2 linked regions of the Homo sapiens genome follow. The protein of the gene in region 1 interacts with the protein of each later gene in a pairwise test. Each region holds a gene or a part of one and is shown on either strand. Other genes may lie near its edges. The genes, in order: KCNK4 and ORMDL1.

Region 1 (4,402 bases):
TTGTTTTGTTTTGTTTTTTGAAGCAGGGTCTCACTCTGTCACTCAGACTGGAGTGCAGTGGCACGATCATGGCCCACTGCAGCCTCAACCTACCAGGCTCAAGCAATCCTCCTGCCTCAGCCTCCCGAGTAGCTGGGAATACAGGCACATGCCACCATTCCTGACTAATTTTTTAATTTTTAATTTTAGAGGTGGGGTTTCACCATGTTGCCCAGGCTGGTGTCGAACCCCCGGGCTCAAGCAATCCACCCACCTCAGCTTCCCAAAGTGCTGGGATTACAGGCATGAGGTACCATGCCTGGCAGCTTCTGAGTCTTAACCCCAATGGATTAGACTTTCTGGAGGCCCTGTTTCCCTATCACCACCCCAACCTGGTCTTTAGGAGTCAGGAGTTAGTCCAGGGCTTGCTGGGGAGTTGGCGCAGTGACTGAGCAGCCCCCATCTTCCTACCAGGGCGTGGGTTTGCCCAGATGTACAGGTGGTCCCCTAGCTATGCCCTCCCGTTAGCCCTCTTCTCCACTGTCCTTAGTAGCATAGTCACTGCCCTCTGCTTCCATGGCCCTGGCAGGTCTGTCTGATGGCTAGGAGTCCTTTGCTGGAGGGTCTGTCCCCTGCCCACATAGGTGGTTGTCCCAGCTTTTCAGAGTTCCCTTGGCTTATCACTGGGCCTGCTTCAAAACCCTTTACTTGGGACCATCCTGGGCACCAGGCCCTCAGGGCCTCCAGAGAGGGCATCTGAGACTCATAGAGAATCAGCTTGAAGCTGGACAATCACTTTTTGTTGAAATAAAAACTGCTAACGTTTGTGGGGCACTTTATTGTGTGTGCCAGGCTCTGTTTTGAGGATTTCTAAACACTGGCCTCCTTAATGCCCAGAACAGCACCCCGAAGTGATGATTAATCATCCCTTTTCTGTAAGTGGGAACAGGGAGACTCCAGAGTTTGGTAACCTGTTCAGGTTCCCTACCAGTAGCGGGTGGTCAGCCTCAAAGCCCAGGCTGAAAGCCATCCAGCATGAGGGCTGAGGACCCCAGCAGGCACCAGAGGGTCTTTGGAGAGGTCACAGGTTGTCAAGTGGGTGAGAACAGGGCGGGGCAAGTTCAGGACCAGCCAGGGCCTGGGTGTTCAGGCAGTGGGAGAGTGGATGCTGGCACCAGTGCCATGCTGGGATCTGCAGGCAGCTTCAGCCACAGCCTTCCGGGGCTGATTTCTGGGCATGGAAGTGAGAACCAAAAGCTGGGGCAGGGAGCACCCTGGAGGGATAGCCGGGGAGCAGGTAGAGGGCCAAAACCTGGAGTGGGGGCAGGAGGTGCTCCAGCAGCAACTCCCCCAGAGGTGGGTCCCAACCTCCACGTCGGCCAATTCCAGGTGGCCCCACCGGGTTTCCCCCACCCCTTTGTCCCGCGGAGCCCCTCCCTCATGAGTGCTGAGCCCAAGGGCCAGGCTGTCCCCAGGGGCGGAGAGTTGCGGACCCTTCCCGATCCGGTAATGGGCCTGGGAGATGCCAGATTAGCGTGGTGCCTGTCCGGAGAGACGGGCCAGCTGATGCCCAGGTCGGGGCCCTGCCGCTGGCCACACTGGGCTCCGGTCCAAGGCTAGAAGGCTGGCCCCTGCTGCAACCCCTCTCCGGCTCCTCTGCCACCCACCTCCCGGGGCTGGCCGGCTGTGGGGAGCCAGGCGGCCGCAGGTAAACGGCTTGGGGCGGCGCCGGCGGCGAGGGCGCTGCACGGAGGGAAGCGCGGCGCCGGAGGGGTTAACCGCGGGAGGAGGGGGGCTTCTGCCGGCGGGAGGGGGGTCCCAGCCCCGGCGGCCGCCCGCTCCGCCCCTGCCGCCTCCGCGGCCCAGTCGGCACCGGCGAGGCCGTGCTGGAACCCGGGCCTCAGCCGCAGCCGCAGCGGGGCCGACAGTAAGTGCGGTGCGGGCTCCGGTGCGCGGGCAGGACTCAGGGGCAGGGACGCCCCAGGGGCGACTGGCCGGGCGGGGTGCCCACCTCTCGCGCGTGGGCGCCTCCGGGAGTGGTGTGGCCGCCGGTCCCGCCGCCCGCCACGCTCCGAGGCGTCGCTGTGCGGACGCGGGGGAGGCGGTGGGAGCGAGCTGCGGGCGCTGCGCGGTGGCCCTGCTGTCTGGCGTGTGCACGCTAGTGTCCACACACGTGTGCGTGGGCTCTGGGTGCCCTGGCGCGGCCGGCACGCCCATGGGGGCCGGGGATGCCGGGGCGTCTGCGGAGAGTGCAGGTGGGGTGCGTGCGTGCAGCGGGGCGGCGCGGCGCTGCAGCCTCGGGATGGAGCGTGGGCGCGCGGGTCTTTGTGCCCGCGCTTGGCGGCGCGTGCCGGGGCGTGTGTGCGCGTGGGCGCCGCCGCCCGCTGTCTCGGACTGACAGCTGTCTCGGGGGCTGTCGCCCCGGTGTGGCCTTTGCGGACCCCCGCCCCGCTTTTTCCGGGAACTGGGCGTCCCCAGCACCCCTCCTCGCCTGGGTGCGGCGGCCGGGACCCGCCCCTGGGTTCCTCGAAAGCCCGGCGGGGCGCGGGGGCACCCTGGAGGGCCAGCCAGGAAGCAGGGCGAGGCGAGAGGGGACGGAGAAGCCGCGGAGATGCTGTCACAGCCGCAGCGGGCGAGCAGGGACCCACCATTCCCCTGTCCCCGCCTTGCGCTGTCCGGCCTCTCCTCCGGGTTTCCCTTCGGACGCCTCCGAGCCCCCTCAGCCTCCTCCTCGAGGGCCAGCTCCCCGCACCCCCACCAAGCTCCACACATTTCCTCGCTCGCCCCGCTTCCCCCTAGGCAGGCTTAGGCTCTCTTTCGGCCTCCCACTCGCCTTCCTTTCCCTTCTCGGTGCCCTCCTCTCTTTCCTCACCCGGTAGTCCCAGACAGGGGCTGAGGGCCGGGCAGCGGAGGTAAGGGGAAGGCTGGAGATAGGAGGGGGACTGGGTGTGTCCAGCCAGAGGGATGTCTGTGGACAGTGCAGCTGGGGGCTTTATGGATCTTTGGGTGTGTAGGGGATAGAGGAGGAGGGTGTGGGTGTCAGGCCAGCTCAGTGACCCCAGCATCCCTGGTTTTGCCCGCAGTGACGACAGCTCCCCAGGAGCCCCCCGCCCGGCCCCTCCAGGCGGGCAGTGGAGCTGGCCCGGCGCCTGGGCGCGCCATGCGCAGCACCACGCTCCTGGCCCTGCTGGCGCTGGTCTTGCTTTACTTGGTGTCTGGTGCCCTGGTGTTCCGGGCCCTGGAGCAGCCCCACGAGCAGCAGGCCCAGAGGGAGCTGGGGGAGGTCCGAGAGAAGTTCCTGAGGGCCCATCCGTGTGTGAGCGACCAGGAGCTGGGCCTCCTCATCAAGGTGCGTGGGTGGGCCGCAGCCCCTTCAGCTGTCACCCATCACCCCTGGCGCTAGCTGTGTGCCAGTGAGGCCCTGTGCCAGTGCTGCTTTCAGATCAGTATCCCTGAGGACGGGTGCAGTGGGAGGCTGTGGGACAGAGGCTGGGGACCAGGTCTCTGTGTTTTCAATAGGGCAACTGTGGGGTCATTTGTTTTCCTGGAGAGCCTGGCACAGGACTGTGCACCTATAATGTCTCCTTCAGGGTGTGATGGTGGTGGGATGAGGGGGAAATGAATGAATGAATGAATGGCCATAGCGCATGGGCTATGTTACATTTGCACAGGTCTCACTCACCGGTCTAGATTGCCACACAAAATCCAAGACTCTCATTTAAACATGAATTACAGTTAAACTGCAAATGCCTTTTTTTTTGAGACGGAGTCTCCCTGTGTCACCCAGGCTGGAGTGCAGTGGTGTGATCTCAGCTCACAGCAACCTCCGCCTCCCAGACTCAAGTGATTCTCCTGCCTCAGCCTCCCAAGCAGCTGGTATTACAGGGATTCATCACCACACCCGGCTAAATTTTGTGTTTTTAGTAGAGATGGGGTTTCACCATGTTGGCCAGGCTGGTCTCAAACTCCTGACCTCAAGTGATCCACCCGCCTCGGCCTCCCAAAGTGCTGGGATTGCAGACATGAGCCACCACACCTGGCCCACAAATGCCTTTTTAATACAAGTCCATCCCAAGCAATATTTTTGTTTGCTAAATCTGGCAACCCTACCTACACCGGTTCCCATACTTTTCTTGGAGTCATGTGCCTTAGAAAAGCCCAAGAACATGGTGAACACACCCCCTCCCCCTGGAAAAGTGTGCATATGAACATGTGCAGGTGATTTGGGAGGGTTCCAGGATCCATGCCACCAGGAATGCCAGGTCAGGTGCCCCTTCCCCCAGCATGCATGCTTACCATGTGGGGAGAAGGGGGGGTGCGTCAGGGTTCCCTGAGGCACTTCTGGTCAGACTCCAACCATAGACTCAAGAAAGTGTTGGCCGGGCACGGTGGCTTATGCCTGTAATCCTAGCACTTTGGAAGG
Region 2 (2,600 bases), on another chromosome or scaffold:
GGGGTTCTTTTTCCTTAATTTATAGCCCTTTGAGGAAATTTTGAATTGATTTAGTCCCATATAATATTAACCTCAAAGAAAAGTGTCAGTGTAGTCTGATAAAAATAAATGTAAGCTACATGGGAAGCTGAGGCAGGAAGATGGTTTGAGCCTAGGAGTTAAGAGGCTGCAGTGAGCTGTAGTCACACTGCTGTACTCCAGTCTGGGCAACAGAGCAAGACCCGATTTATTAAATAAATAAGTGAATGAATGCATGCATGCATGTAATAACAAAAATATTGGTTATTCAGATGGCCCTGAATTTGGATTTTGGCTCAACCCCTTTGAAGCTCTGTGACTTTTGGCCGTTTTCTTCAAAAGCTCAGTTTTCTCATCTGTAAAACATTGAGGATTGCATTATAATACATGTAAAATGCCTGACATTCAGAAGTTTTAATCACAGCTATCACACAAAAAGCCAACTGAGATGTACCTGTATACAGTGTCCATATTTCTCAAAATGTATTTTTGACCAACAGGTATGATTTCAAATATTCTGATTAAATTGCTTACTTAACTGAAGAAATAGCATTAAAGCCATCTATATAGCATTAGGACTTTTCAGTGCTTTCACATTTTCTTATTTGATTATTTGTCAGGTAGGTGTGACATGGAATGTTATTCCAGAATTTTTTTTTTTTTTGAGACAAGAGTCTTGCTCTGCTGCCCAGGCCGGAGTGCAGTGGCATAATCTTGGCTCACTGCAACCTCCGCCTCCCAGGTTCAAGCGATTCTCCTGCCTCAGCCTCCCCAGTAGCTGGGACTACAGGCGTGCACCACCGTGCCCAGCTACTTTTTGTATTTTTAGTAGAGATGGGGTTTCACCATGTTGACCAGGCTGGTCTTGAACTTCTCACCTCAGGTGATCCGCCTGCCTTGGCCTCCCAAAGTGCTGGGATTACAGGGTGAGCCACCATATTCCAGATTTTTAAGTAAAGAAACAGACTCAAATGCATTACCTTGTTGAAGATCTTGCACCTAGTTGGAGTTCAGAGCTCAGGTTAAACCCTAAACTACTATCTTGTAATACAGGTCTCTTTCCAATATAGCTGTTGGCAAATAAATGTTGTCACACTGAGTCCCACCTGGGTTTTGCATACCATCAGAGGATTGCCTAAGTTTTTGAAAGAGTCAAGTAATTTTCATATAATCTACACACAAAATTAGTTTTAATTAAAAGACAAAAAGGGGACATATGCTAGGTTATAGTCAAAAGAACCCATTATAAGATTTATTATTTCTAACCTATCAGATTATAGATTCAACCTGTAATGATGGTGGGAAATGAAATGAGTTTGCTAAATGCAAGTGATGTCCTATTTTGTTCAGTAAAGGAAGTATAAATTTAGTCTTCAAATATATGAAAACAGGAAGAAAGAATTTCAGAATTGAGGAATATGGTTTACACTAGAGAAAGAATTTTCTGACTGTAGTTTGCAAAATAGGTGGAAGATTGTAGAATTTCTCAATCTAGATGGTTTTAAAAATGTATAAAATTCTCTTGTGATGTTTTTTGTCATACTTGGAAGTAGCTCCTCTCTTCTAACCATGTTACACAAGATATTTATTTTCCCTTATGAGAAACTAATGTCAGTAAAGGCTATTAGAATACTTTCCTTGCGTACTGCAAAGACCTAAATAGAAACTAACTTCTTAATTATGAACAAATAAGATATGATGTTTTATTCTTTACATCTTATCTGTATTATTCTGTTAGTAATCAGATGATGTGTCTGCACCTTGATATGATATACCTGTAGGTAAAACTAAACATTCTGGACTTGGTGATTTATGATTTTAAAGGTGCTTTTTAGGCTTGGGGCTTGTTAAAACAAATTCTCAGTTGGATATCCAAAAACATACATGCATTTGATTATTAAAAAGCAGCTGGAATGGTACAACAGTGTCTTTCAGGTTACCGGTTAAACTGGTTATAGAGCTGCTCAACTACAGTATGAAAATGAGAACATCAAAAGGGCAACCAAATATTTATTTCCTTCAAAGATAGGAATTGTACTAATGCACTAAAACCCCATTTTTTGGAGCTTTACAGTACAGGTTCTTAACCTGTGAGTCACAAAACTTTTTGAGAATAAGATGAATGCTTTGAATCCATATCTTTTTCAGAAACATACATGGAAATACAGAACTACACCTGTAATTACAGAGGGCATATGAACCCTAGTTTGATAAGCCTTGCTTTAAAGGATGCAGTGTGTTCTATTAAATGTATTTAATACAATTGCAGAAATGGAAAATGTGGACCTCCATTAAACAAATTTTTTAGTTCCTAATGAGATAAACTTGGGACCAAACCGATTCCTCTTGTTTTAGTGCTCAAAAATAGTTTCATTTTTAGGTATTTATGCTTTAGTGGCCTTTTTTTCTACCTTTAAAATTGTTTAAGTTCCAAGTAATTTTATTTTTGGATGTTATATATATTCTTAACTTTTATCTCTACAGATATTTTCTGGCAAGTTTCTATACGAAGTATGATCCAACTCACTTCATCCTAAACACAGCTTCTCTCCTGAGTGTACTAATTCCCAAAATGCCACAAC

The links.
Region 2: the proteins of KCNK4 (region 1) and ORMDL1 interact in binary tests that used the Homo sapiens proteins (3 or more experiments, as listed by UniProt).

What each region holds. Positions count from the first base shown.
Region 1 is NC_000011.10:64,289,880-64,294,281, forward strand, and holds the start of KCNK4 (potassium channel subfamily K member 4), read left to right. Parts: upstream 1-1,422; 5' UTR 1,423-1,687; intron 1,688-1,842; exon of another isoform or gene 1,843-1,906; intron 1,907-2,118; exon of another isoform or gene 2,119-2,239; intron 2,240-3,062; 5' UTR 3,063-3,139; coding exon 3,140-3,328; intron 3,329-4,402. UniProt on the Homo sapiens protein: K(+) channel that conducts voltage-dependent outward rectifying currents upon membrane depolarization. Voltage sensing is coupled to K(+) electrochemical gradient in an 'ion flux gating' mode where outward but not inward ion flow opens the gate.
Region 2 is NC_000002.12:189,771,805-189,774,404, reverse strand, and holds part of ORMDL1 (ORM1-like protein 1), read left to right. Parts: intron 1-290; coding exon of another isoform or gene 291-300; exon of another isoform or gene 301-556; intron 557-2,502; coding exon 2,503-2,600. UniProt on the Homo sapiens protein: Plays an essential role in the homeostatic regulation of sphingolipid de novo biosynthesis by modulating the activity of the serine palmitoyltransferase (SPT) in response to ceramide levels.